4 linked regions of the Homo sapiens genome follow. The protein of the gene in region 2 purifies or fractionates together with the protein of the main gene of each other region. This does not show direct contact. Each region holds a gene or a part of one and is shown on either strand. Other genes may lie near its edges.

What was found.
Region 1: the proteins of DNAJA4 (region 2) and DNAJC3 purify together in Homo sapiens (affinity purification with mass spectrometry, with the first as the bait; one large-scale study listed by BioGRID). This does not show direct contact.
Region 3: the proteins of DNAJA4 (region 2) and MLLT11 purify together in Homo sapiens (affinity purification with mass spectrometry; one study listed by BioGRID and IntAct). This does not show direct contact.
Region 4: the proteins of DNAJA4 (region 2) and AICDA purify together in Homo sapiens (co-immunoprecipitation; one study listed by IntAct). This does not show direct contact.

Annotation. Positions count from the first base shown.
Region 1 is NC_000013.11:95,758,688-95,766,445, reverse strand, and holds part of DNAJC3 (dnaJ homolog subfamily C member 3 precursor), read right to left. Parts: intron 6,407-7,758; coding exon 6,225-6,406; intron 5,768-6,224; coding exon 5,648-5,767; intron 2,804-5,647; coding exon 2,698-2,803; intron 2,614-2,697; coding exon 2,493-2,613; intron 1-2,492. UniProt on the Homo sapiens protein: Involved in the unfolded protein response (UPR) during endoplasmic reticulum (ER) stress.
Region 2 is NC_000015.10:78,271,962-78,279,719, reverse strand, and holds part of DNAJA4 (dnaJ homolog subfamily A member 4), read right to left. Parts: intron 6,626-7,758; coding exon 6,521-6,625; intron 6,063-6,520; exon of another isoform or gene 5,524-6,062; coding exon 5,296-5,523; exon of another isoform or gene 4,620-5,295; intron 4,223-4,619; coding exon 3,992-4,222; intron 1,513-3,991; exon of another isoform or gene 920-1,512; intron 1-919.
Region 3 is NC_000001.11:151,059,311-151,066,892, reverse strand, and holds the start of MLLT11 (protein AF1q), read right to left. Parts: upstream 6,497-7,582; 5' UTR 6,340-6,496; intron 1-6,339. UniProt on the Homo sapiens protein: Cofactor for the transcription factor TCF7. Involved in regulation of lymphoid development by driving multipotent hematopoietic progenitor cells towards a T cell fate.
Region 4 is NC_000012.12:8,599,961-8,607,718, forward strand, and holds the end of AICDA (single-stranded DNA cytosine deaminase), read right to left. Parts: intron 7,053-7,758; coding exon 6,905-7,052; intron 5,526-6,904; coding exon 5,255-5,525; intron 4,963-5,254; coding exon 4,847-4,962; intron 4,378-4,846; coding exon 4,324-4,377; 3' UTR 2,210-4,323; downstream 1-2,209. UniProt on the Homo sapiens protein: Single-stranded DNA-specific cytidine deaminase. Involved in somatic hypermutation (SHM), gene conversion, and class-switch recombination (CSR) in B-lymphocytes by deaminating C to U during transcription of Ig-variable (V) and Ig-switch (S) region DNA.

The sequences.
Region 1 (7,758 bases), on a different chromosome or scaffold from region 2:
CAATATTTTAGTACTGCTTCAATGTCAGTTTTTTCCTCTCAAAAGCTATTAAAACAGAGACATGTAGCGATCTGAAGAGTTTCCCTTGATTTTTCAAGATCTCAGAGGCATCCTCAAATAACAGTCTTACTTTACTTGCTTTCTATTGAGTGGAATCCCCTGTTTCCTGATAATTCTATCATAAGCCCCAAATTAATAAATGTCCATGTTCCATTATTCACTAACCTAAACCTATTCATTCTTTATTATGTACCTGCCATCACTTTAAATTGCTTATCTAAGAAAGGTAAAACCAGGAAGCAGAAGAATATGGAAAGCATATTTCTAACTCAAGATTTCAACTGAAGACATACTGTTATTTAGCTAAGTAAGATTATTATTTATTTACATCATTTATACTAAACCTCTGATTCCAGTCCAAACAAGTCAGGTAATACCTATCAGTTTCAGTTATACAGGCTCTTTTCCTTTCTTTCTTTCTTTTGCAAATGTAGACAGCTGGCAACTATTCTCTCTCTCTCTTTAATAAATTCCTATAGAAAAGAATTTTTTCCAGGAAACAACAGACTTCAAAGACATATCAATTGGGCAGGGCCAATTGATCCTAGCACTTTGGGAGGCCAAGGCAGGCAGATCACCTGAGGTCAGGAGTTCAGGACCAGCCTGGCCAACATGGTGAAACCCCATCACTACTAGAAGTACAAAAATGAGCCAGGCGTGGTGGTGCACACCTGTAATCCCAGCTACTCAGGAGGCTGAGGCAGAAGAATTGGTTGCAATTGGGAGGTGGAGGTTGCAGTGAGCCAAGATTGTGCCACTGCACTCCAGCCTGGGTAACAGACCAAGACTCCATTTCCAAAAAAAAAAAAAAAAAAAAACAGATCAATTATATTAAATTAGCACTAAGCATCTTTTTCTTCCAGAATTAAGCCATCAGGTTTCCCCAAAAAGCAAGTCAGTTTAACATTCAAGTTCCAAATGCATCTTTCAAATTACACTTAGCATTCTACAAGATTTAGCCTTTTTTTTTTTTTTTAACAGCTAAGCTCTTTATATTCTTCTGTAGCTTCTCTAATTTCGCAGTGAGAGCTAAGGGTTTACATACAGATGACAAAAGTATCTTTGATAAAGAGTTCCAAAAGCTAACTGGAATGCAAATCCTAGAGTAAAACCATCTCACCGAGTAGACACGGTAGCTCAAAAGGAAAGAAAACGAGTATGCTAAAGGGATTTTCTATGTGGACTACATGCCTTATTGAAGCATGCTTATAAATATTAAAGTGTCATTTTGACTGCATTCATTTCAAGCCTCATTCAGAGACCTCAAGGTCTGAATCCCCCACAAGATGTCCCACAAATAGTAGTGACCAGGTTGTCATCATTCCCTGGAAACTGGGAACTTGCTTAGGAGCAAGATTCTTTTCTAATTGAGGAAAGCAGGGAAAAAGAGATTGACCAGTTTTGCCTTAAAAAGAGTATCACAAACCAAATTTTACCATTCGAACCCTTCATTTAACTGTAAGAGAAAATTACTGTTTTTGATTTAAAATGCTTTACCTGAATTTGAAACAAAATATTTGCAATAAGGGCTTATAAGGCTCATTTATTTTTTTAAAAACCTGTATCATTTAAATGTTCATAACATAGTGTCACATGAAAAAAGGCACAAAACTATATATATATATGTATATATATACATGTATTATATATGTATATATATATATGTGTATATATATATGTATATATATATGTGTGTGTGTGTATATATATATATATATATATATATATATATATATATATGGATTCTATTTTTCAAAAACTGTATATTACTGTATACGCCGTAGTTATCTTCCAAAAACAGGACACTGCTTTTATCCAAGGACCTCACAACATCTGGCAGGAATCTCTTGTTATTTCATTTGGCTTGAACAAAATAGGGTAGCAGCTGTCCTATGTTACTAAACAGCTTGGGGTCACAGAGGATCATTTTATATTAGGGATATATGACATGTATGTATGCTTTCTGTATTTATGTTTTATACACACCGAGTATATATATATATATATATAGAGAGAGAGAGAGAGAGAGAGAGAGAGAATATGTATATGTGCATAAAATATAGAGTAATATATGTGCATAGATAAAAGCTGGAAAAGATAAATGCAAAATGAACAGTGATTACTTCCGGATAACATGAGAGCTACAATTTAAATTTTCTATTTTGTTATTTTTTTTCCTTTCTACAAAAAAAGCTAAAATATTTATTTTTCTATTGTACTGAACTGGTTTCAATGGCAGAACTCTTTCCTCACATGGTATACCTTTCAGGTTCCACTATGGAAGAGTAATTTTCAAGTTCTCTGCCATTTTTCTAAAATTGTCAACATTTCCAGGTACTCTGGTAAATTTGTTTTAAGGAAAAGGAAGCTTAAAATGTGATAATTTCCTAATCAACACTTCGGTACTGCAAATCAAATCCTTAAAGATTTACCTTCATCATACATTTCCTCTATCAAATAGGCCTCTGCTCGATCTTTCAGGGCATTCACATTGTCAGGTTCCATCTGTAAAACTTCAGAACAAACCCTAATAGCTTCAACAGGCTTCTCGTCCTAAAAGGAAATGTGAGACAAGGATTTATGGTTGGTATTCCACATGTTGAGTTTTCACATTTCTGGGAACAAGTCAACTGTTACCTTAGAAAAGCAGTGGCAAATCCTCTCCTTTGAACGAACTGTATATTCAGCAATGCTTGGCTCTGTTTTCATGACAGATTCATATTTGCTGGTAGCATCTGTGTATCTAAGAAATGAGCAAATCATGATAAGAAATGATGACATTTGATTTCCAGAGCTGTAGAAAGGCTCCTCCCCTCTTCACCATGTGTTGCTTAATCAATCCAATTGGATGAGCCCATGGCTTCAGATTCGGCTTTTCCCTTATTAATCTAGAGTCCCATAGAAGGTACACTCCATAATTAAGAGTTAGGAAATAAAAACATATGACCATAGGAGATGCAGATGGACAGAACAAAGCATACCTGTGAGTATAAGTACCAATCAAACCAGAAGAATTTCCTTACAGAAACATTGCTCAGAATTCCAAACCTGAGTAAAACACCCTGTTGAAGTCTGACTTACACTGAGCACCTTGAACAATACAGAGATCAAGTTTTATTTCTTGGTCAGTAAACACTTCCATGAAAATAATGGAACCCATTACGTGCCATTTTATATAATTAATGTCAGTATTTACAACAAAGTACAACGTAGTTCACACAAAAGGTACCTGATTAAATTCCCAACTGTATAAGCTTTCTAAGAATAAAAGCTATTTCAGCATTTTCTTTAAACCAGTAAAAAGTACTAATCCTGTTATATACTCAGTTATTTCCCTCAACAATAGTAAAGTAAAAAATATGTTTCTATGCCATGGTGGCACACTATTCCCAAAGTGCTACAATCTTCATATGTAAATATGCCAATGTATTAAAACACAGGCTTAACTAAAACATTTAAAATAAAAGCCAGCTTCTCTATCATCCTCAGCAAACTAACGCAGGAACAGAAAACAAAGCACTGCATATTCTCACTCATAAGTGGGAGCTGAACAATGAGAACACATGGACACAGGGAGGGGAACATCACACACGGAGGCCTGTGTGGGGCAGGCAGCAAGGGGAGGGAGAGCATCAGGACAAATAGCTAATGCATGTGGGGCTTAATACCTAAGTAATGGGTTGATAGGTGCAGCAAACCACCATGGCACACGTTTACCTATGTAACAAACCTCCACATTCTGCACATACATCCTGGAACTTAAAGAAGAAAACAAAAAAGCCAGCTTCTGGGAAAGTGGAATAGATGTATTTGTCCCAAGTGCTCCAGCTAAGCACAACTAAAAAACCCTAGAGATTATATGTATATTTTTTAAAATAGAAAACTTTCAAAGGAGGAAAAGAGACAGACTAGCTAGTGACTCAGGACCTGAGGAAAACATGGTAAGACGTTCCCTGGGTTCTTTTTTTTTGTTTCATATATCCCAGACTTGGAGCTGAAGATTCCAGCAATGCAGAAACGCCAACAGGTACAGAACGACAATAACAAAAACCTGCAGAAGTCTGCTCTGTCTAGCCAGAGGACCTGAAAAGGACAGACTTGCAAACAGAAAACATTTTTTTTAGAGACGGAGTTTCGCTCTTGTTGCCCAGGCTGGAGTGTAATGGCACAATCTCGGCTCACCGCAACCTCAACTTCCCGGGTTCAAGCGATTCTCCCACCTCAGCCTCCGCAGTAGCTGGGATTACAGGCATGCGCCACCACGCCCGGCTAATTTTGTATTTTTAGTAGAGACAGGGTTTCTCCGTGTTGGTCAGGCTGGTCTCAAACTCCCAACCTCAGGTCCTTCAATGGATAAATGGTTAAACAAACTGCAGTAAATCCATACCATGGAAACTACTCAACAGTAAACAAGGAGGAATTATTGATACAATATGGATAAATCTCCAGACAATTCGAATGAGGGGGAAAAAAGCCCATCCTGCCAGCTGTGGTAGCATGCATCTGAAGTCCCAGCTACTCAGAAGGCTGAGGCAGAAGGATCACTTGAGTGTACTATGACTGTATCTGTGAACAGGTGGGCAACATAGTGAGATTGTCTCAAAAAAAAAAAAAGCCAATCCCAAAAGTTTATACATTGTATGATTCTATTTATGTAACATTCTTAAAATGACAGAATTCTACAAGTGAATAGATTAGTGGTTGCCACAAGCTAAGGAAGGGATAGGAACAAGAGGGAAGTAGGTGTGGCTATAAGGGCAACATGAGGTGTCCTTGTTGGGATGGAATTATTCTGTATCTTGACTGCACCCACGTCAATATCCTGATTGTGACAATGTACTATAGTTTTGCAAGGCGTTATAGTCTGCAAGATGTTGGGGGAAACCGAGTGAAGCATTCTCATGATGGCAACTTACAAAGCTACTAAAAGTAGAGGAATTGGAGCCTATTTTCTATTAGGCAGTTTTGTCTGCAGTGCCCTCTACTCTTTTCAGTCCTCCTGCCCAGCCTATAAACCCCCTACAAACAACACTCACACAGACACAGCCTCTTACTTCTGTCCACTTTTACTTATTCTTTAGGATTAGGATTTAAATATCTATCACCTTCTCTAAAAAAAAAAGCTCCTCTTTTACTCCTTGCCTTTACCATCCTGGTTTGGAGTAAATACTCCTCTTTGGTACTCCAATTATCCTATGTACATTCTATCACTTTGGTATCATATTGTCTTTTAATAATCAATTCATATATTTGTCTCCCACGCAATGCTATAAACTTCTTAAGAACAAAAACTATTGTCAAGTTTAAGTCTGCACCCTCAGTACATAGCTCAGCCTGATATAGGAGATAATAAATATTTGGTATAGTACAAGTAATTCTGCTGGTAAGGATACTACACAGTTACTATTATTTATATTCTTCCCTATTCCAAAAATGTCCAATTCTGGTAGTTTTGCTAAGGCCCAGGGCTATCTAGAATACCCCACCCTCAATGGCTGAGAAGTAAAAGAGCAGTTCTGTAGTTCACTTGTGCCCACAGCCCCGCACATAAGGAATGGCTGGACAGTTGGAACAACCATATTCTCACCTGCCATCTCTGATGAGCTCTTCAGCTGACTCAATCAGCTTATTAAGTTTCTTTACTTGTTTATAGTGTGCAAAACACCTTTTATGATCCTGGTCAAGTTTAAGACATTCCCGAACTTCACTGTTCATGTATTTAAAAAAGGAAAATACTCCATGTCAAAACAATCAATGAGTAGTTTTCCACAGAAATCACAATAAAAGTATTTTTTGTTTGCAACGATTAAACAAAAACCATACTGAGACTTATAATTTACTATATACATTTATACGTGGCATTGTACCATGCATACATTTGTTAATTCAAATTAAAATGACTTACTAGCATTATATAGTAAACATTCCATTTTGTTTCTATAAATATAAGAGCCTTCCTGTTTAATAAGCAGCTTCATGAAAACAAACTATGTGGAATTAAAGTAACTTGGGAATAACACAAAATATATAAATGGATATACAATATAAAAACAGCCTTAACTACCATCATCTTATTAATTTAATATTAAAATGTTAAAACAAGATGAGGTAATCTTACTGCCAACAATTAAAAAAGATCAGACATGTGTGTCACTAGAACTGACCTGAGGGACAGTTCGTGGTCTCCTAGTTGGTAGTACAGTGTGCTTATTTTATAAAACGCTTCAGTATTATCATTCTTCAACTTTGACGCAGCTTTTAAGTCACTTATAGCTTTCCTAGGTTCTCCTTCTTTTATAAAACATTCAGCTCGAAGTTCCCGTAGTTCTGCATCCCAAACACAAACCTTGAGGAACAAAAGAACTAGACTTTAAGAAAGAATAAATTATGCACATTCATTGTTGCATTCCACGTATTTTTTATCTACGTATTTATCAACATAAAACATTCTCAATTGATGTGATGACTTATATAGTGCAAATATTATTTTAAAATCTGATACAATTTAAATGTGACAAAACTGATGTGACAAAATAGTTTCTCCAAAAATGTTGTAAATGAATTCTAATGGGGGAAGAGATATATATAATAACAAGGCCCTTTTCTTACCTCCTTCGATTATATAATTCTAAGACACTGAAAATAAGAAAACATAGCATTTACTATTGGAGGGTTGTTCCTAGTGAAGCATATTTGAAGAGAATATTCTGTTATCAGATTTTTATACTTAATCAACAATTCTAATTTGTAGTCAAAAAAATAAAACCTAGGTTCTACATTGGCAAAATACTTTTTTCTGCTAATAACCACATTATGTTCTTAGCTGGGCACATTGACTCATGCCTGTAATTCCAGACCAGCTTAGGCAGCAAAGCAAGATCTCATCTCTATAAAAAGTTTAAAATTATTAACTGGGTGTGGTGGAACACACCAGTGGTCCCAGCTACTCAGGAGGCTGAGATGGGAGGATCACTTGAGTCCAGGAGTTCAAGGTTACAGTGAGCTACAATCGCACCACTGCACTCCAGTCTAGGTAACAGAGAGAGACCCAGTCTCTAAACAAAAACCTTTTTTAAGAAATTATCTTCTGTAAATGTCACCGCCTTAAAAGTAAATCCTCATATCAAGAAAAAGAAAGAAAGAAAGAAAAAATACCGTGAGAGGGCAGGAGGTTGAGGCTTCACCATTCCTATTTTATCAAAAAGTCCATAAGGGTTTAGGAAACACAATAGTATTCTTCAAATCATAAACCCAAGAGCTCATCAATAAGGCTGGTGGAAGTATCTTTGCATATTTCTTAGAGCTGCTCTAAAGTCGTATCGACTTTTCACATATACAAAAATATCAAAACCAACATTATACATAAATATCATGGACAATGAACTAAGTTCAAAATGGATAGTCTATGGGAATGTAAAAATGTAAACTATATTTCCTTAAAAAAGCATAAACAAAATAACCCAGTAAAACATGAATTCTACTGGACCATATCACAATATCTTCTGTAAAATTATCAACAAATTGCCCATTCTACATACATCATAAGTTTAGAGCCAAAATTAAATGAAACTGTATATCAAAATACTGTGAAAATCACAAATAAATGTGAATTACGACTGCTTCCATTTGAATATTTCAGTAGACTTCCTTCGGAAATCAGTTGTCATTAAATCCTTCAGAGGCAAGGAAACCTAGACT
Region 2 (7,758 bases):
ACCTGTCACCCTGCCTCTTTGTGGGGTGACAGGTATCCCTACCACGAGGGGGACAGGAGTGCTCCCCACAGACAGGAAGAAGCCTCAATAGAGTCCAACCAGTCCCCTGCCTGGCATAAAAACTGGCTCTTGGCCACCTGCAGGTGACACCCAGGTTCCTTGGTAGGGAGCTCACTAGGTGGCTTGGCCACTGGCAGACTCCTTCATGGTCACAATGCACTTCCATACATGCTGCTGAGCTGGAGTCACCCTCCCGGCTGGCACCCGCTGGGTCTTACAGCTACGTGACTTTGGAAGGCATCAGAGGAGTTCAGACCCCAAGAACTCTAAGGCGTTCTCCCAAGTCAGAAACTTCCCTCTAAGCATGGAAAAGGAAAGGGACAAAAGGGTTTCTGATAAAGCATGCTCTTCAGCTCAGCGATGAAAATGGACAAAGACAGAAAGAAATGTTCGGAAAAAATGGGGGAGACGGTGGAGGGGAATGGAAACACTAATTTCTTCAGCAGTCCACTTCCATACGGGACTATGTAGAAAGTGAGCTGTCTCTTCAAGAGGAAATCTTTAAAGAGGAGGTTTTAAAAATAAAGTAAGCCAATGACTATCCTTGAGATTCATTCGCAGGCAGGGCTGTGGTTCAGACATGGCCTTCAGAGCCTACTGACTGTGCAGGACAGCAACCCCTTAGCTAAACTGCTCCAGGCTGCTGGCTTTTTGTGTTCCTGTTTATTCTTTTTTTTTGAAATACAGTCATGGCCAGGCACGGTGGCTCACGCCTGTAATCCCAGCACTTTGGGAGGCCGAGGCGGGCGGATCACGAGGTCAGGAGTTCGAGACCAGGTTGATCAACATAGTGAAACCCCGTCTCTACTAAAAAAAAAAAAAAAAAAAAAAAATAGAAAAACTAGCCAGGAATGGTGGTGTGTGCCTGTAATCCCAGCTACTTGGGAGGCTGAGGCAGGAGAATGGCGTGAACCCGGGAAGCAGAGTGTACAGTGAGCCAAGATCACGCCATTGCACTCCAGCCTGGGCGACAGAGCGAGACTCCGTCTCAAAAAAAAAAGAAATACAGTCATGCACAGCATAGTGACCTTTCAGTCAACAACATTTATGAAGATGGTTGCAAAGATTACACCAAACTTTTACTGCACCTTTCCTATGTTCAGATACTCACATACTCAGCATCGTACTACAACTGCCCACAGTATTCAGTACAGCAACCTGCTGTGCAGGTTTTAGCCCAGGAGCAACAGGCTATGCCACACAGCCTAGGGTGTAGCAGGCTATGCTATCTAGGTCTGTGTGAGTACATTCTATGGTGTTCACACCACAACGACATCGCCAAACAATGCATCTCTCAGAACATATCCCCTTCGTTAAGTTACATATGACTGGTTTTTCTGTCTCCCCATTCCTATCAGGTGTCGCTTCTTGCTGCTCTCAAGCCCTACTCCCCATGCTTCTGCTTCTAGCTTGCTGGGAGCTGGGAAACTGACCAAGCATGGAAAACTACAGGTAAGAGAAGAAGACCACGAGTTAGGCTCTCCCGGCAGGTAAATACCTGCCTGCAGGCAGGGCCATCACACCCTTGTGTGGCTCCAAAATCACTTTTTTAATTAATCCAATCCTCAGCAATGCTCATAACAGGCTAAAAGGCTCTGGGGAAGAAGGCATTTCAACAGCAGAAAAGAGGAAGAAGAGGGAGAAGAGAAAATGGAGAAACAAGAAATAAGCCAACACAAAAGAGGGGTGAAGAAAAGAGAGGGTGCAAAAGAGAACAAAGTAAAAACAAAAACAAAACAAAAAGGACAAACAAATCCCCAAAGAACTCTCCAACGGCAGGTTTCCTGGATGCTCCACCCTTCCTTATAATAAAGAAGGAAATGGATTTCTTGGGATTTGCCACTTCCTTCCCTCTGGGGCTCTTTCTCCACCACCCTCACTCCATTTGGCTCCCGGCTCCCTAGGCTGGGGTCAGCTGAGACAGCAAGGAACGCTGGCTCTTGGTGGGGCCCAGGACCTCAAATAGTCCACCCCTGGACAGGACAGGCTTTCCCAAAGAAGTTACACACAGATGCTTCCCAGCCCCGGCTCAGGAGGGCTAGGATCTGGGCTGTGACCACGTAAGGGCATCTTGGACACAATGCCAGGGTGTTGAGCTCACAACCAGTGGTCTGGAGCTTCGTGTAAACTGTGATCCTCAAACTCCTCCTTGAGGGAGGAAATGGGTGCCTTGGGAGGTCTATGGAAGCCTAAGGGAAGGTGTTTTATTTTAAATTTTCATGCAAATTTTGCATTATACTGCAGTGCTTCCCCCAATCCTGGATTAAGTATATGTATAAAAACACACACAAGTCTGGGCAACATGGCGAAACCCCGTCTCTACAAAAAGTACAAACATTAGATGGGCGTGGTGGCATGTGGCTGTCCCAGCTACTCGGGAGGCTGAGGTGGAGGTTACAGCGAGCTGAGATCACGCCACTGCACTCCAGCCTGGGCGACAGAGCAAGACCCCTGTCTCAAAAAATAAATGAACAAATTTTAAAAATAAATAAAAACAGACACAGATCAAATGACAAACCAAATGGGGTAAAATGTTAACATCAGACAAATCATATATGGATGGGCCTCGGACTATTTTTATATTTACAACTTCTTGTAAGCTTGAAATTGTTTCCAAATAAGTTTATTTTAAAACTCCACAAACCGATCAAGGCTTGGATATATAATTCTGCTTCCTACTATCCCCAGGAAAGGAGGAACCTGAAAGAATCCAAGAGAGGAAAGAGAAAAAGAGCACAAGGCTGGGAAGAGAAAAGCAGACAAGGAGGGGAAGGGGGAGAGGGACACGGAGGGAACAGAAGTCCAGGCCTCAGTCACCCCACCAGACTTGAGTCTTATCTCCAGCTGCCACTGCCCTGGGGGCAGGCTTATTGGTGGTTACCTCCCTGCCTGCCCTGAACCTACCCCTTTTGCACCAAACCTCAAATGGCCATAGAAAAAGGTAATCCCAGCCCCACGGCCAGTGAGGGGACTACAGCAACACTGCAAATGGCTGGTGCTGGGGCCCAGGCTGCTTCGGTGGCGTAGCCGCCACCACACCCATCCAGACATTCTTTGCTATGCACAGCTGACCTTAGTGCTATTCAGAAGCAGCTTCAAGTCAAGGTCCCTGGCCTGGCCTCTCTCCCTTCTCAGCCCCTTCTAGGCAGGTGCTCTGGTGCCCACACAAACCCTCAACTACAGTGAACACACCAACCCTCCTGGGAGATGAGTGCCCTGGTGTCTACAGGGGGGTTGGGGGCTGAGCTCAGGCCTCAGGAACCCTTTCGGCCTAGAGGCATCTCCCTCTGGCTCCCATGGGTGTGTGCAGACCAGCAATTCCTGTGGAAACCTCCAAGGATAAACTGATAGGCAAAGTCTTTCTTACAGGAAAATTCTATTTTAAAATGTAACTCATGTAATGAACAACAGAGGCTACAGGAACATGTGGATGAATCAGCACAAATCACCACTTGATAGAAAAACACCACCTATTAAGCTGTTTTCTTATACAAAAATAAATTTTTAAAAACTTAAGTTTAATTGCCAGAATTCATCTAAAATTCAGAGCCCCAAGATTCTTATTTGAGACTTTCCCCCCAACTGAATATTTTTTCTAGGAGAATATACAAGAACTTTATAAATTATCCAGAGTTATTAGGGACAGTTTTAAATTTAGAGAAAATCACATCATACTAATTTGTGTAACAGAATTTGACCTTAAATGTGAAATCAGGGGAACTATTCCCAACACAAAGAAATAAATACTCAAGGCGACAGATGCCCTAAACACGTGGCTTGATCATTACCCATTTTATGCAAGGGACAAAGTATCACATGCACCCCATCAATATGTAAAATATTATGTAGCAATAAAAAAATCAGGCTAACTTGCCAGAATTATTATGCCAAACATACAGAACATCAATGGAAACACACTTTGAAACATTACCTGCTTTGGATGTAATAACAAGAATTCGATTGTCCAATGTTTTTATCGTCTTCTTGAAGCCACAAAGAGCTTCAGAAAGCTGAATTTTCATTTTCATGATCAAGTCATGGCCTCGTCTCTGAAAGACACTATGATCCTTCTGATCAAGCACAATTATGACATCACCAGGCTCCAGCTCAGGCTCCTGATCTCCTTCTCCATGAAATAGTATCTTTTGCCCATCTTTCATACCTATGAAACATCATCCCTTTCTGATTAGCCATTTCTCATACAAACCATGCTTCCTTAAAGCTTTTGAAGAAGGAACAGAGTCCTTCAGGGATTCTTTATTCATCAAGTCTCCCAACCTCATGCAGGCACAAGGCAGGGAGGGGTGGCTAGGATGGCCAATGACAGAAGAGGTCCCGCTTCCCTTGGCATAATGTGGGGCCAAGCCCAGCATGCACAGGGAGTGGGGGAATGCGGCTCTACATCCCAGGTTTACACAGCACTCCCTGCCCAGGGCCTGTGATGCCACACCACCAGCATAGGGTCACCGCCCACTTCCCGGGGCACAGGGTGCATGACTTGGGACTGATAGGGACAGGTCAGCCAGCCCTGTCCTTTTCTAATAAGTCAGCTTGCACACTCAAGGCACAGGGTTTAGGCATGTTTAAACAGTAAGTCCTTTAATAACACCTGTGTCGGTTTGGCTGTTGATTCTTTTACTTTTGGTCTCATCTCTGATCTAGGATATATTTACTGGATTGGAAAGCCACAGAATCATCGGAATACTTGGAGGACAGCTAAAATGGAAAAAGGCCTTAAAATGATGGCATCAGGCAAAATGAATAGCAGGAGAAGGTGCTGTATTTGGGGGAATCTGATGCAGCACATGGGGAAATGTGGAGAAAGGGAACATGCAGCCACAAACACTTACACAAGCCCTTATGGCCAATGAGCATCAGAAGCGACCAGGAAGACACTCCGAAAGATTCTAGAGGAATGGCTTGAGAATGTCAGGAGATGGCAACTAACCCAAACCAAGGCCAGGTAAGACTTTCAGAGCGTTAGAAAACCTCATAAAGAGGCTGTCTGTGATCTCAAGGAAGTAAACCTCAGCAAGAACACTTTGGCAGGTGACATGGAATGGAAATAAGGCCAGGAAGGGTGAAGAGAAGACTGGGAAACAAGAGGAATTCATGGCACACCCAATACATGTTGTGATACAGCTCACTTCCCTGACATCTAGTCTGTGTATCTCACGATTAGCACCCAGACAGCATTTCCAGCCCGTGTGGAGCACCAGCTCTGCGCAGCCTCACCTTTTTCAACATGTACCTCGATAATCTTCTTCTCACGGATCACCTTGGCCCCGCTGCAGCTCTCGCAGCGGTCCTTGGGGTTGATGCGCTCACCCTGGCCCTTGCACTCGATGCACACGGTCTGGATCTGCTGTACCATGCCCGGCCCGATCTGCTGGATGTGGATCTGCATCCCCCGCCCCTTGCACAGCGGGCACTTCTCCACCGATCCCTTCTTCCCACCAACACCTGCAGGGTCAGGGGAGGCAGGAATGAGGGCCATGCTCTTCCCTTACCAGTGTCCCTGCTGGGCGCCATGGCAGAAGGGTAGGGAACCCTCACATTGGACAATGGGCTTAGAATTCTATTTACAATAATAAAAAACAATGCAGAAGAGTCTGGAGGAGTCCAGCCAAGCAGACAACATCCAGATGTTAACATCTGACCTCAAACGTTTGTGATTTTGGCTGCACCAATCCAAATTTATTACTTTAGCTTCATCAAATGTGTTTTCTTCCACCCCAGGTGGAACTCGCATAGGCCCACAGATGAATGAGGAGGCTGGGGCTGTGGCGATCTAGACAACACAAGCTCTGTCAATAGTGGCAGCTACCCAGCTCAGCCAATTCTCTCTGTGGGACAATGTGAGGCTGGGGTCACCAGACATGGCTTTTCTTGAAAACTCAGGTTTTTTAAAAATTACAATAATTATATATACATTTAAGTCAGGGGTCAAGAAACCATGGCCAGACTGCTTGGTTTTGTAAATAAAGCTTTACTGGAACATAGGCATGTCCATTCATTTATGTACTATGACGGCAGAGTGAACTAGCTACAAAAGACTCCATGGCCTGGAAAGCCTAAAATCTGGCTCTTTACAGAAAAAGTCTGCCAACCCCTAGATGAGGTCAAGTGTCTGATTTTTAATTTTTAAAAATAATTGTCTGTATACATATGTAACAAACCTGCACGTTGTGCACATGCACCCTAAAACTTAGAGTATAATAAAAATAAAAAATACAAAAACATAAAAAGAAATAATTGTCAACATGTCAAATAGAGGTGCAGCCCAAAGAAAACATTCATTCAGGCAAAGAAGTGTGGCCCTCAGGCCACCTGTTTGTAATCTCTGCTTGACCCTTGCATTTGAAAAAAGATAACTTATTTTCCCTGAACTATAAAACAAGCATTGTTTCTGAATCTAAGGGATCAGAACTGTGCGGTTCAGTCAAAAATTAATTTTTACCTTCACATTTCTCACAAATTACATTTTTCTGGAGGGCCAATTTCTTCGTGACTCCATTATATAGATCTTCAAGAGTTACAGATAACTGGTGTACAACATTCTTGCCTTAGCAAGGGAGAAAAAAAATTAGTGGCGTTGAATGAAATATACCATTGTATTAAATACCACCCATATGACCCTTAGTTGTATGAAGTCTCCAGAGACTCAAGACTGTGGCTGGGTCATGCGCTCCCTTCCCTGCAGGAAGCAATGCTTCTATTACCCCAGCCCATCCTTCTGGCCCTCAGCCAATAACAAGAGCTAATACCCTCTCTAGCTATGAGCTAATTATTCAATCATTTATAGAGGCCAACAAAAAGACTTTCCACCTTTATTTTCTGAGAACAAATCTGAGGACAAGGAGAGTACTAATTGAGAAACCAAAGGCAGTATTAACCCACGAAATTGGTTAAGTTTCCCCATGAAAGGAGTCCTTTCTATACATAAATGTTTGGCAGCCAAAGTCTCTGGATCTTTCACTTCCTTGGGCATAAAGCACTTTACTTTCTGAGCCCTTCTGTAACCGGTGGCCAAATGGGAATTCTTTCCTCTGCCAAAATCTTGCTTCTGCAACTCAGGACAGTGGGTGTTCAGTCCACAGGGTGGGGGTGTGCTCCAGCACCTGCCAGCCTGTCAAGACTGACAGCATCAAGACCCTCCCTGCTGCCCGTGGAGCTCCTGCAGTCACTGAGATGAGCTGTCCTGGTTTACTGGCTGCCAACTTTGAGAGATGACTTAATTAAGGGCATGAAGTTTTTCATCTCAAGACAGTGAGGGAGCTGGACAAGAGAATACCCAAGGTTTTTTTTGTTTTGTTTTGTTTTTGAGACAGAGTCTTGCTCTGTCCCCAGGCTGGAGTGCAGTGGTGCGATCTTGGCTCACTGCAAGCTCCGCCTCCTGGGTTCACGCCATTCTCCTGCCTCAGCCTCCCGAGTAGCTGGGACTACAGGCGCCTGCCACCGCGCCCACCTAAGTTTTTGTATTTTTTAGTAGAGACGGGGTTTCACCATGTTAGCCAGGATGGTCTCGATCTCCTGACCTCGTGATCCACCCACCTCGGCCTCCCAAAGTACCCAAGGTTTTATCATGTCCACACCATCAATTATAGGAGCAGGCGATATGCTCAAAGGACAGAGGAAGGATTTTTCCCTAATAAACACTTTGTGATTTTCAGCACTCTATGTTCACAGAATTGACAC
Region 3 (7,582 bases), on a different chromosome or scaffold from region 2:
AGTGCAGTGGCACGATCTTGGCTCACTGCAAGCTCCACCTCCTGGGCTCACACCATTCTCCTGCCTCAGCCTCCCGAGTATCTGGGACTACAGGTGCCCACCACCACGCCCGGCCAATGTTTTGTATTTTTTAGTAGAGACGGGGTTTCACCATGTTAGCCAGGATGGTCTCGATCTCCTGACCTCGTGATCTGCCTGCTTCGGCCTCCCAAAGTGCTGGGATTACAGGTGTGAGCCACCGCGCCCGGCCGAATTTCTACTATTTTCTAAACTTCCCATCTTGGAATGACTTATTTACCATCTATTGCATCAAATTGATCTTGGGTCTGATTTTCAAGGCCTTCCAAAATCTAGCCCATTCTTCCCAGCAGTGGTATATCCTCTGTTACAGTTATGCTCATTCCTGTCTTGCTTAACTCTCTCCATTCTCCACCTTAAAATACTTTCCGCATTTCAGCCAGGTGTGGTGGCTCATGCCTGTGATCTCAGAAGTTTGGGAGGCAGAGTGGGTGGATCACTTGAGGCCAGGAGTTTGAGACCAGCCTGTCCAACATGGGGAAACCCTGCCTCTACTAAAAATACAAAATGTTAGCCAGGCATGGTGGTTTGTGCCTGTGGTCCCAGCTACTAGGGAGGCTGAGGCACGAGAATTGCTGGAATCCAGCAGGGTGAGGTTGCAGTGAGCCTTCCAACCTGGGCAACAGAGCAAGATTCTGTCTTAAAAAAAAGACTTTCCACATTTCAGGACTCCATTCAAGAGCTCAGTGGCTCACACCTGTATTCCCAGCACTTTGGGAGGCTAAGGCAGGCGGATGACTTGAGACTAGGAGTTCCAGACCTGCCTGGGCAACATGGCAAAACTCCGTCTACAAAAAATACAAAAAATTAGCTGGGCCTGGTGGTGCACGCCTGTAGTCCCAGCTACTTGGGAGGCTGAGTGGGAGAATCACTTGAGCCTAGGAAGCAGAGGTTCCAGTGGGCTGAGATTGTGCCGCTGCACTCCAGCCTGGGGAATAGAGTGAGACCCTGTCTCAAAAAACAAAAAGACAAAACAAAACAAACAAAAAACTCCAAGTCTATAGAGGAACCCCCGTTCCCCTAGCCCAAACTCCTATTATACTTAAAAATACTTGACTTCCTCCTGACTTTGGTTTAATAGCTCATGGTATGTGTGAAAAGACCTTCCGTGACTTTTCTGCTTTCTATTTTCCTTCTTGCCTTCTAAATCCTACTATAAACTCACCTCTTGCAGATGACTTCCTTAAACTTTTACTCAGCTTCATCTACTCTATTTCCTCCAGCATCTCCCCCAACACCCTGTAGAGTTTTACCTAACTCCATCAGTTTGGGATTACAGATCACTGTTAATGTATTTTATGTATAGGGATGGCCTTATTGCCTTCTGAATGGGGAAAAGCAAAGGGCAGTAGAGAGCAAGCTAGAATCTGAGAAAAACAAAAAGCTCTTTGACAAATTGACCCCTTGTCTTAAAACCAGAGTATGAATAAAAAACTGCTCAAATAGTCCCTGAGGGTTTGGCAGAGCTATCTTGCAATTTAAAAAGCTAAAGCAAATGTTATGAAATATTAACTCAGAAGGCCTAAAACCTCTATGTCATTGACCCAGAGACATGTACACAGGGTACCAAATACATTCAAGAAACACATGCATGCAAGCATATGTGGCATTAAAATCAAGTCAAGAACATAAAATAAGACTACACAGAAAATTGAAGTTAAAGTGCTATTCACTAATGTAAATAGTAATGAAATTTTTGATTTAATATAGTATGGATTTAATTATCAAATACTCCAAATTTTGCAAAAGACCCCTTTTTTGGCTAGCTTCCCCTTCCCCTCCACAAATGCTCTCCACCCCTACTTCATCTATCTTTACATCTATCATTATCTTAAACGGTATCATTTACTTAAAGGGTTGACAGTGCCTTGTACCACAATATATATTCAATAAATGCTTCCCATTATCCTTCATTTTAAATTATCCAGGTATTTTAGGCAAAGGCAATATCTAATTATCACTCTGTTCTTAGAGATACATGATTAGCAAATATGTAGATTAGAAAGATACACTCTCTCGGAGCCACACAGACACGCCCAAACATCCTTTGTCCAGACCCTTTGTGGGCATCCAAGGCCTACTCAACAGGGCCTTGCTGTGTCATGCTGCCACCATGGGGAAAGGGGGAGGACAAGGTGGTGGTAGAGGGGAGCAGAAGCTCTCTGGCATCTCACCATGCGTGCCTCAGTCAGAGCTTGGATTTTCCTATTAGCATTCCCTCACCAGTTCCACTGAATTGCAAATAATCATTCTTTTCCAGAATCTGTCCCCATACCTAGGAGTTTCCCCAAGGGTAAAGACCAATCTACTTTCTCTGTACACAAGTGGTGGGCTTTGTACACAAAGCCATTCAAGGCTGCTGATTAACTTTCCCTCACTATTTAATTAATACCTTGCCATTCCCTTATATTAGCCCACAGGTAAGCCTTAACAATCCATTTCTCTCTAGCCTACCTCTCCTTCAGAACAAAACCTAGGTGCTAAAAGAACTTTCCTAGCCAGGTGCAGTGGCTTACGCCTATAATCCCAGCACTTTGGGAGGCCGAGGCAGGCAGATCAGGAGGTGAGGAGTTCAAGACCAGCCCAACCAACATGGTGAAATCCTGTCTCTATTAAAAATACAAAATTAGCCAGGCGAGGTGGCGCATGCCTGTAATCCCAGTTATTTGGGAGGCTGAGGCAGGAAAATTGCTTGAACCTGGGAGGTGGAGGTTGCAGTGAGCCGAGATCTCGCCATTGCACTCCAGCCTGGGCAACAAGAGCGAAACTCCATCTCAAAAAAAGTAATAATAAATAAATAAATAAATAACTTTCCTATGCTGTAACAGGGATCTCTTTTCTCTGATCCCAGTGCTCGAGTATACTGATGATAATGAGAGCAAATGGATTGGAAATCCATTTGGATTTAAAGTAAAGTTCAGATTGGAAGAAGGTATTTTAACAGAATCAGATACTCTTCCATGCGTTAATGGATCTATCACTTTCTCTACTCATTCTACCCAAGCCCTGCCTGATATTTTAGGACTATTAGAGCTGCCTACAGCCTCCACCCTGCTACTTACTAGCCAAGGGTCAAGAAGCATTAGTTGTGGTCGGGCGTGGTGGCTTACGCCTGTAATCCCAGCACTTTGGGAGGCCGAGGCGGGTGGATCACGAGGTCAGGAGATCGAGACCATCCTGGCTAACACGGTGAAACCCCGTCTCTACTAAAAGTACAAATATTAAGCCGGGCGCGGTGGTGGGCGCCTGTAGTCCCAGCTACTTGGGAGGCTGAGGCAGGAGAATGGCGCGAACCTGGGAGGCGGAGCTTGCGGTGAGCTGAGATAGCGCCACTGCACTCCAGCCTGGGCGAAAGAGCAAGACTCCGTCTCAATAATAATAATAATAAATAAATAAAAATTAAAAAAAGAAGCATTAGTTGAAATGTTCCCAAAGGAGCAGAAAGAACATTCTATCACCTCCAAAAACAGAACCCCAAGTTTCAAAAGGCCTTTCTCCAACACACCCTATTGGGTCTCACCAGGCCAGAGACTCCTAAATAATGGCCTTAAATAGGTTCCAAAATGCTCCAGTATAATGTGAAATGACTGTACTAAGGCAGAAAAAGAAAGTGTTAATCTAGAACACAGTGATGTGTGAGAGTGTGGGGGCTTCAGGAATGGTGAGTGGGTAGGCTAGGATGTTTTTAATGTTGAAAGTGAATTCTGAGTTGTTCTTTTTCTTAGTTTAAGTTCCAAAATAAACCCTGGGAACTGAGCATTACTCAGCAGAGAAGCTGCTTAGAAGGAGGGTGATGCCGGGATTGCAGCAGGGTCGGGGAGCATGTTGGAAAGGTGAGGTCATCATCCTATGATACTCAACTCTGATAATCTCCATAGTACTTTGCAGAGACGTGTGCAGAAAGAGAGCTACAAAAAATGGTTGTATCCATTAACCAACCACCCACTGCTTAAATCTGGGACTATAGAGATTCTAAGAAGCATACCTAGGAGTCAATACTGTTATGGACTTGTGGCTACAGGGATTCTTACTGTTACCAGTTATTTTCACAGCTAGCTGGGTTCTTTTCTCTATCCTACCTGACAAGTCTTCTCCAGAATGAGCTTAGTATAATGCAGGCCACATTATAGGCTCTTTAAAAAATAGAATCATGGGGCCAGGCGCGGTGGCACACGCCTGTAATCTCAGCACTTTGGGAGGCCGAGGCAGGTGGATCACAAGGTCAGGAATTCGAGACCAGCCTGGCCAAGATAGTGAAACCCCGTCTTTACTAAAAATACAAAAATTAGCCAGGTGTGGTGGCAGGCGCCTATAATCCCAGCTACTCGGGAGGCTGAGGCAGGAGAATCGCTTGAACTGGGGAGGTGGAGGTTGCAGTGAGCCAAGATTGCACCACTGCACTCCAGCCTGGGCAACAGAGCGAGACTCCATCTTAAAAAAAAAAAAAAAATAGAATCATGGGGGGAAAAAATCATAGAATTTTAAAACTAGAAGACATCTTAGAAATTAATGACTTGGGAAGACTTCCAGCCAGTTTGTATAGAATCCAGATCTCATAATTCCCAATCTGATCCCTTTTTGTGTTGTACATGGATAGTTGCCAACAGCTTTATATAACCCTATACCAGTATTCCCAAAACTTAAAAGAATTTTTAGTTGCTGAAGAATAGATTTTCCGTGGTTTAGGTGATTGTTCCTGTAATTGTGATCTGAATGGGGAAAAGCAAAGGGCAGTAGAGCAAGCTAGAATCTGAGAAAAAAAAAAAAGCTCTTCGACAAACTGACTCCTTTTCTTACAACCAGAGTATGTATAAAAAACTGCTCAAACAGTCCCTGAGTGTTTGGTAGAGCTATCTTGCAATTTAAAAAGCTAAAGCAAATTTTATGAAATATTAACTCAAAAGGCCTAAAATCTCTATGTCATTGACCCAGAGACATGTACACAGGGTACCAAATACATTCAAGAAAGACATGCATGCAAACATACGTGGCATTAAAATCAAGTCAAGAACATAAAGTAATACTACACAGAAAATTGAAGTTAAAATGCTATTCACTAATGTAAGTAGTAATGACATTTTTGATTTAATATAGTATGGATTTAATTATCAAATACTCCAAATTTCGCAAAAGATCCTTTTTTGGCTAGCTTCCCCTTCCCCTCCACAAATGCTCTCCAGCCCTACTTCATCTATCTTTACATCTTTCATTATCTTAAATGGTATCATTTACTTAAAGGGTTTTGACAGTGCCTTGTACCACAATATATGTTCAATAAATGCTTCCCACTATCCTTCACTTTAAATTATCCGGGTATTTTAGGCAAAGGCAATATCTAATTATCACTCTGTTCTTAGAGATACATGATTAGCAAATGTATAGATTAGAAAGATACACTCTCGGAGCCACACAGACACGCCCAAATATCCTTTGTCCAGACCCTTTGTGGGCATCCAAGGCCTACTCAACAGGGCCTTGCTGTGTCATGCTGCCACCATGGGGAAGGGGGAAGGACAAGGTGGTGGTGGTGGTAGAGGGGAGCAGAACCTCTCTGACATCTCATAATGTGTGCCTCAGTCAGAGCTTGGATTTTCCTACTAGCATTCCTCCACCAATTCCACTGAGCTGCAAATCATTCTTTTCCAGAATCTGTCCCCATACCTAGCTCCTGTGGGCTATACTGATTTCACTATGGAATCAGGCAGTTCTCCAACACAGAGGCCCCCACCTTTCCTACCCTAGGCTGCCTCTTTCTTTGGAGCAAAGATTCGAGGTGGAATGAAAGAGATTATCCAAAGAAAGGTCAGGATTACACCCAACATTATCCCATATAACCCCCTCCCAAACTCCCTCCTACAGAGAAACATAGAACACTACAGAAAAAAATTGCAAGTATAGGGAAGTAGAGGACAGAGAGATACAGTAGGACTAAAAATTAAACAGCTGGTAAAACAAATTATGGTTTGAAAAGGAAGATAAGTAGACTGAAGATATTAAATACACAGGACAATAAATTACAGAAAAGGATACTTGAAATGAGGTAGGTGCTGAGAAATAACTACAAGTAAATTGTTAGAGATTAATGGTCTGTATAAGGTAACAAGGCATGGATGCTGTGAAGAAATAACTACCCATTGTTCATAGCGCCCCCTTCTCTCCTCTTCAGCTGTCCCCCACCTCATGTGGGGTCTTTCAATCTAACCATAAGCAGCCGCTCTTCTATCTTTGCAGCCCCCTGCCCCCTCCCTCAGTTTGGTTTACCTGTTATCAATCAATTACTGGCGTGTTCCAAAGATGGAGGGAGTGCCTCGGGAGCTCCGGGGTCTGCGCCGGGCTGGAGAAATACAAAGCTGTTGGGGCTTTGACGGCTTTGTCTTCTCACTCCTTTTCCCTCTTCAGTGACTGAGTCTGTCAGTTCACTCTCCCCCTGCAATGCAGCCCCTCCTAAGAAGGGCGGAAGGATTCCCCGCCCCCTCCTGCCTGACTCGGCTAATTCAAATGATAGGTTCCAGAACACTTGAGGGAAGGAGAGACGATGAAAGCATCTCCCTAGGCTCATTGGTCTGCGCTATTATTCCCGATCTCTTCCAGCACCCCCGTGCTGACTGGGGGCCCAATGAATGAGCAGTTAATTGCCCTCTAATTTTAGGTCCTCTAATTTATGGATTTGAAATCTTAACTCTAGACTACAATGGAAAGGAGGAGTATTCCTTTCTTCCACAATTTAAGGACTTTAGGTTACAAAGTATTTTTAAGAATCAGAGTATTTTTCCACCCCTTCTCCCAATCCCTGCTCCTCCAGACTCGCCTCTCTACCCTCACAATGGGTAAATAAACCTAGTCCTATTCCATTTTGGGTAGAGCACAATAAATTTGGGGTGGGGGGCGTGCTTCTGCGAATCTCTGAACTTGGTTAGGTCTGGGGGTTTGGGGGGCTCCGCTTCGTTTTGCCCCGAAATGCCTGGCGAGTAAAGGGAACGTGAGATTCCGGGGGCCCCAGCTTGGGTGCCAGGGCCTCATCTAGGTGTCCGCATTCTCCAGTTCTCCCCGCAGGGGCGGCGGCCTTGAGGGGCTGCAGAGGCACCCTCCCACGTCCCGCGCAGTGCAGTGCCTCCGCAGTCCAGAGGGGAGCAGTGCGCCGGGCTCCGAGCCGGACGGGTTTCGTAATCGCGTCGCCGCCGCTTCCGCCCTCAGCCGGCCCCACCTCTGCCGGCTCGTACTCGGCTCCCCCACCTCGCCGCAGAGCTAGCCCGGGAAGCCCACACTGGCGGCCACGGAGCAGAGTCCCTCACCCCCACCAGCTGTAGCTGAACGTCTGGATGGTGGAGAAGAGCAGGTGAGGCCGTGCAGTTGGTCCCCTGGCCCGCCTGCCGCGCCGGCCGGGCCAGGCGGAGACACACCGGATGCGGGGTGTGGGGGAGGCGGGTGTCCTGGGCTGCAGAGATGCTGGGGTGGTGGGAAAGGGGTGCGCGCCCGGGGTGGCCGTAGTCATCCACGCTCCTGG
Region 4 (7,758 bases), on a different chromosome or scaffold from region 2:
GGCTCAAGCAATCCTCCCTCCTCAGCCTCCCAAAGTTCTGGGATTACAGACATTAGCCACCGTGTCCAACCTAAGAGTTCTTTATATGTTCTGGATACTAGACTCTTGAGCAGAAAAAATACACAAACTGTTTTTCCCTCTGTTCTCATACCACAGCAACAGTCAACACAGAACACTTCTGTAATCAATGCAAGCAATCTATTCTGCAGCAGGCACAAGCTGGGTATCTTCCAGTTCAATTCAGATACTATCTACCTGGACATAGTTTCAGATCCCACAGGTTGAGGGTTCAGTCCCACAAGATCATCCCCACCCTCCCACCAGTCACAAGTCCAGGCCTCTGGAACTGCTGACCAGTTACTTCAAGTTGGGGTTCCCATGACCTTTGTTGGGTTTGATTAATTCATTAGGACTGCCCACAGAACTCAGGGAAATACTTATGTTTACTGGTTTATTACAAAGGATAATGACACAAATAAACAGCCAGATGAAGAGATACATAGGGCAAGGTCTGGAAGGGTCCTGAGCACAGAAACTTCTATCCCCCCCGAGTTCTGGTATGCCACCCTCCCAGGACACAGATGAGTTTGGATTTTTTTTGTTTTTGTTTTTGTATTTTTCTGTAGACCTGCACTGTAGACATGGGTGAGTTTTTGTTTACCTTCTTGTGTTTAGCTCTCTGAAAGCTCCCTAAACCCTGTCTTCTTGGGCTTTATGGAGACTTCATTGGATAGGCATAACTGAAGCGTGGACAACCTGTAAAATTGTGATTAGAAAAAAGGATATGATCAAGGCCGGCCACAGTGGCTCACGCCTGTAACCCCAGCACTTTGGGAGGCCAAGGTGGGCAGATCACCCGAGGTCAGGAGTTCGAGACCAGCCTAACCAATTTGGTGAATCCCCATCTCTACTAAAAATACAAAAATTAGCCAGGCGTGGTGGCAGGCACCTGTAGTCCCAGCTACTCGGGAGGCTGAGGCAGTAGAATTGCTTGAGCCCAGGAGGCGAAGGTTGTAGTGAGCTGAAACCGCGCCAGTGCACTCCAGCCTGGGTGACAGAGCTAGACTCTGTCTCAAAAAAGAAAAAGAAAAAAGGATATGATCTAATGCTGATAGACTGGGGAAACCCAGTAAGGCGTGTCTGTTCAGATTCTTCTTGGCCTCTCTGTGCAGCATTCCTTCACCCAGGATATGGGCAGGACCCTGTCTGGAATGAGGGTCTCGTGATCTACAATCCAACAAGATAGGTCAGTTTTTTGTTTATTTTTTGTTTTTGAGACAGCCTTAAGAGTAGCTGGGACTACAGATGTGTGCTACCATGCCTGGCTAAGTTTTTTAGAGATGGGGTCTCACTGTGTTGCCCAGGCTGGTCTTGAACTCCAAGGCTCAGGGCACCTGCCTGCCTCGGCCTCCCATAATGCTGGGATTACAGGCGTAACCATCATGCCCAGTCAGATTATTTCCTTATAGCCAGTGCTTATATGGAAAGGAGGGGGAATTAGAGTAATATTTTTAGGTTTTATGACTGGTTTGGGGGAAAGGAGGTGCTGGTTTCTTTGACCGCCTTGTGGAAGAGAGATTCTAGTTTCTATGTGGCCTCAGGGAAGAATGAGGTGCCAGAGACAGGAGGGCTGGAGAAGGTGAGAGAGAGAGTTTTGCTTCTGAGGCCTAAACCATCCAACCTTATAACAAATGACTGTAACAAGGGTGAGGGGGTTTATAAGCCAGGAACTATGGACAAAAACCTATATATATATCATAATATCACAACCCTTATCAGATATATGATTTGCAAGTGTTTTCTCCCACTTCTGTGGGTTGTCTTTTCACTTTCTTACTAAGTGTCCTTTGATGCACAAAGATTTTTAATTTCGATGAAGTCCAACTTATTTATTTTTGTCTTTGGTTGCTTGTGCTTTTGATGTCATAATTAAGAAGCTGTTGCCTAATCTAAAGCCATAAACATTTTTACCTATGTTTCTCTCTACGGTTTATAAATTAGTCTCTAATATTTAGGTATTTGATGAATTTTTAATTAATTTTTATATATGGTGTGTAGTAGAGACTCAAATTCATTCCTTTGCATGTAATATCCAATTAGCTCAGCACCATTTGTTGAGAAGATCATTTTTTCTCCATTGAATGGTCCTTACACCCTTGTGAGAAATTAGTTGATTACAGATGTATGGGATAACTTCTGGACTCTCAAGTTTATTCCATCATACTGATTTTTTATTTTAACTTCATATAAATCACTTTTATATTATTTTATTTGGTATTTTATCTTCACAGCTTCCAAAATTATTTATCATTTATTTAACTGATTGAAAGTGAGCCAGAAGCAAATTTGCTGTCATAAAAGTTTACTAAAAATCAAGAGAAATGGCTTCGTAGCACCATTACTGCAATGTTACAATTACATACGTTGTTATTAGAATCATTTCTAAAGTTATAAATTTATGAAGCTTTGAGACTCCATTTCAATATATCAGAAAAGGAAATCATGTTAATAAAAAATCATTAGACGCAAAATAATATAAAATATAAATGAATACATGAAGTAACAATTTTTAACTCTTTTACAAACTTATGTACAATAAGATTAAAATAAGACAGTTGTGCATTCAAGTTTTCCTGTGGATCTGCTCATCTTCATTGCAAGGGTTGCTAGGTAATAACGGCACAGGGATATGGTTATTCTGAATATTTTTCTCACTGTCAAAGACAGTTGTTAGGGACAAATAGACACCAAAAGAGACAAATAGGGATCCCTTATTGGCTCCTTACATTTTGTTGGATAAAGCACAATTTCCTTGCAATGCTTCCCCATCCTTCTCTCCCAAATATTGTTCTCTTTCTCTCTCTCTCTCTTTTTTTTTTTTTTTTCTGAGACAGAGTCTTGCTCTTGTCGCCCAGGCTGGAGTGCAACGGCACGATCTCAGCTTACTGCAACCTCCACCTCCTGGGTTCAAGCGATTCTCCTGCCTCAGCCTCCCAAGTAGCTGGGATTACAGGTGCCTGCTACCACGCCTGGCTAATTTTTGCATTTTGAGTACAGACGGGGTTTTGCCATGTTGGCCAGGCTGGTCTCAAACTCCTGACCACAGGTGATCCGCCCGGCTCGGCCTCCCAAAGTGCTGGGATTACAGGCGTGAGCCACCACGCCCGGCCCTCTCTCTTTCTTTTTTTTTTTTTTTTTTTTGAGAGACAGGATCTTGTTATGTTGCCCAGGCTGGCCTTGAACACCTGTGTTCAAGCCATCCTCCCTCCTCAACCTCCCAAGCAGCTAGAACTATGAGCGTGTGCCACGGTTCGCAGCTTTATCATTCTGTTTTGTCACAACTCTCTTATATAGTTAATATACCTTTGGGAGAAGCATCACACACATACAAAATGTAGCAAACCTTGACCTGATTGGCATTTCTGAGATGAAGAGACCCACGAGAGCCAATAGATTTTCCTCTCCCCAACATTCAAGCAACTTCCTTCCAATTGTTTGCTAATTATGATATGTGAAGTTTGTGGGTGTTTCTAAATTAGGGACTTCCTTAAAAGAGTTTGCGTTTCCAGAAGATTTGCTACTTCAGACATCAACCCATTATTAGGGTGTCTTGTTCACAGTCCTCCTGCCCATTTTAAGATCCTTTATTAAAGTAGCTTGAAGGTGACCATGCATGGTCTATACCTCCATCCCCACCCATAACAATCTTCTTTTGTACAAACATAAAAACATGCTTCTGCTGATTAAAACATACAGCGCATGATTGGATATTAATGCTTTGGAGAGATGGTTTGGGGTCACAATCACCCAGATACTCTCATTAGGAGGTCCTATAGATCATGGCCTGATGGAAGAGTTTGTGTTACTTGAAAGTAAACGTCAAGGGAAAAGAATAGAAAAATCTATCACTAACACCACTGTTAACTCAAATGAATCAAATAATAAAGGATGTTGATATAAAAACATTTGATCCTCTCACCATGCTTTTTAGGATCTACCTTCTGCTCTCATCCTACCTAAAAGTCATAGAAAAACGTTGACACTTTAGGATGCTCCCAGGTCCTGCAGTTCTGTTATTCCCAGTAGGGGACAATGTTGCATTCAAAACTGCACCAATTGCAGCACGTCCCTGGCCAGACCTGTGTTCCTTCTCTATTTTCAAGACATAGATCTTTTTAAAGAGTCGTATATAAATATTTTTTCTGTAAACTCTAAGAAAGTGAGAGTTGAAGAATAAAAACAGAGAAGACTTGAAGGACTGTTTTTTATCCACTGTCTTCAGCAGAGATATTTCATCGTGTGTGACATTCCTGGAAGTTGCTATCAAAGTCCCAAAGTACGAAATGCGTCTCGTAAGTCATCAACCTCATACAGGGGCTGTAGAGAAAGAGAGAAGCAAATTGAGTGAATGGCTTCAAAACGAGGTTGGGGGTCGGTGGGGCCGGAGAGTCTTCTAAACTGAGTGGATGGCTTTGTAACATGTTGGAAGAAAGTAAATTGGGAAAGAGTTTTTTTGGGTTTTTTGTTTGTTTGTTTAAAAAAAAAAAAAAAAAAAAAAAAAAAGGAGAAAAGAATTCTGACCAGGAAGGAAACGCAACCCTGGGGAGAGACAGAAATTTAAAGATGTGAAACAACAAAAGAAAGAAAAGGGAGGGAAAAGGAACCTTAGCAGAGGGCTCTGAATGGTGAAACAGCAGAAGAAAAAGCTGATGTGGAGGAGAAATAAAGTTTTCATCAGATGAAAACTGAGAGTGATTGAACAATAAGAAAATATAAGAAATATACGAAACTCCAAAAAAGACTGTAGAGAAAGAAAGAAAATTTAAAAAGCGAGGAAGCCCCTTACCAAAAGGATGCGCCGAAGCTGTCTGGAGAGACGAACTGAATTTTCATGCAGCCCTTCCCAGGCTTTGAAAGTTCTTTCGTGGTTTTCTACAAAAGTATTCCAGCAGTAAAAATAATCTTCAAAAAAAAAAAAAGGAAAAAAAGGCGGGGATATGGGGGTAGAAGACAGTTCAGGTTCCAAATCGAGGGGAAAGAAGCAACCCTGGCCCCATTTTCTCATTTCCTCGGGGCCTTGTCTCTGAGCCATTCACTCTTTTCTCTGCTTCTAATCTTTAATTTCGGCTCCAGAGGTGAACCAGAATCCCCGCCCACTTCTTCCCCTCGAGCTTCCCCACTAACTCATTCATTCCGCATCGCAATCCCGAATGCGGGCTGCTGCACTGCGCCTGCGCGGAAGGCCCTTTCGCACCTTTGAAGGTCATGATGGCTATTTGCACCCCGGCGCGGTGCAGCCGCCGCAGCCCCTCGGGCTCAGCCTTGCGGTCCTCACAGAAGTAGAGGCGCGCGGTGAAGATCCTCAGACTGAGGTTGGGGTTCCCTCGCAGAAAGTCGGCCACATGTCGGGCACAGTCGTAGCAGGGGCTCCAGGAGGTGAACCAGGTGACGCGGTAGCAGCGGCCAGGGTCTAGGTCCCAGTCCGAGATGTAGCGGAGGAAGAGCAATTCCACGTGGCAGCCGTTCTGGAGAGACAGAGAGGACCACGCTAAAATTCACTGACTTTTATTGCGGCTCTGGTAGCCTTAGTCATTGTCTCCTGCAATGATCTTTGGGGATGCTTGCAGCTATTGTCCTTGTGTTACAGAGAGGCTAAGCAACTTGCTCAAAAGAGCACACCAGTAGGTAGAGCTGAACCCTTGGCAGCACTAGTCCTGCAGAGTGAAGGAAGGCTATGGGTTTTTGTGGAATGAGGAAGACGAAGTGCGCTGAGTTGGGAGGAAGCAGCATCACACTACCTCACCGAAGATTTAATTTGTGTTTATGAAGTTGCTTTTTGCACCTTTTGAGAAGGAAAATGGCTAGAAGTGCCTGTTGATGTAACATTGTGGAAATATACCTGGACCACTAGGTGGAGGCAGGACAGTTTATGAGGACCATTTGGGAGGATCTGAAAAGGGGAAATAGATTTTGGTAAAGCAGACAGATGGGTATTGTAAGAGAAGTAATAGGCACTGCCATGAGAAGTAAATGAAAGTGCTTGATAAAATCAAAGCCTTCTGAAATAGAATGTGTCATGTCACCGAATAGGAAGGAGATTGGGATGTATTCAATACAAATGTAGGCAAAGAAAATTGCATGGTAATATAACCATCAAACAACGAGCCAGACGATGACCTTCCACCCCACGGATGCTTCCCTGAGATTCCACCAAGCCCAGACGTCACAGCGTGTTAGGAGAGAGGAGATACCCGTGGGCAGAAGTTTATGTAAACCCATCTGGATTTTGGTGAAGAAGTCTCTTGGAAATGTAATTCTCTCGGGTAGCCGAAAGATCAATTTAATTAATCATCAGCCGAGGCTTCTCTGAGTTTTCTGGGGATCACCATGTTGAATGTATTCACTGGCCTACGACCCATGTGAGTAGGAGGGAAAAGAAATCATTTGGAAGACAGAATTGAGCCACCGTTAATTTTTTCCCAAATTCTTCTTCCTTAATTTTCAAAAATGCTTAAGACACAATTTGTTTTTCACATTTAAAATTTTTGCTTGGACAAGCTGATAATATTCTCCCATATAAAAATGCTTTTAGCTTAATTAATCTCAAAGGCAATTCAGATGCTGAGGAAAGCTGGTAAACAGTTTGGGAGCAGTTGTTCTTGGCACTGAAGGAAGGAGTGGTATTAGGGTGCCCAGCATTACTGGGGAGGAATTAAATCACATATTTTGGGCCATGTCTAATATGGGTGCATGGACATGGAAAAAGAAATAAAAAAAAGGATTTGAGGAATGTGATAGAGACACAAATGCCAAAAAAGGATGGAAGTAATACCATCAGCAGGTGGCTCTAAAAGCACTCACAGTTGACCATTAAACTGCTTGCAAAGCCGACTTTAATTGATACCTTATTGCGAAGATAACCAAAGTCCAGTGAAAAGGATGTAGCACTGTCACGCCTCTTCACTACGTAGCACAGGTAGGTCTCACGCCGACCCTTAGCCCAGCGGACATTTTTGAATTGGTAAAGAAACTTCCTCCGGTTCATCAAGAGGCTGTGGGTGAGAGGAGGGAGAGAAAATGCAAGAGTACAGTTTATAATCTGGTCACTCTGGATTTTCCTTCAGCTTTTTAAGGAAGTCATTACTTGGGCTAAACCAAAGAAGATGCTCTGACTTCCTCTGCTGGCTGCCTGAGCCCTCCTGAGCCCTGCTGAGCCTGGAATCCATCATAAACTCCTTTTCCTGCTTATATTTAAGGCCAATTGAGAGATACTCATCAAGGACCCCAAACCCTTACCCACAAGACAGTCACCTCCTGCCACTGTCTTCTAGATGCTGATGACTTGGGATTACAATTAAATTTGTTCTTCAACAAGAAAACGAAACAAAAAATAAAATAAACTTGTTCCTCAGTCCCATAATTGTATATTCAGATTTCCCCTCCAGTCTTTACCTAAGTGTCCAACTTGTACCTCAAACTCAAAATGATCAAAACAATATTCCTCAACTGCCCCCTGTCCTAAACTGCCACTCCTCCCGACTTTGCCACCTCAGGTAAGCAGCCTAGCAGCCTGGAACCATCCTTGACTCATTTCTTATTCCTCAGTCCTCATATTTAATTAATCATCTAAATGTGTTGATTCAAACCCCCCAATATTTCTTGAATTTGTACCTTCCCTGTTTGCTCTTCTCTGCTTCGGTCCAAGCCCTCATCTTCTTCCTCCTTATCTGTTGTGCTGGCCTTTTAACCGGTCTGTCT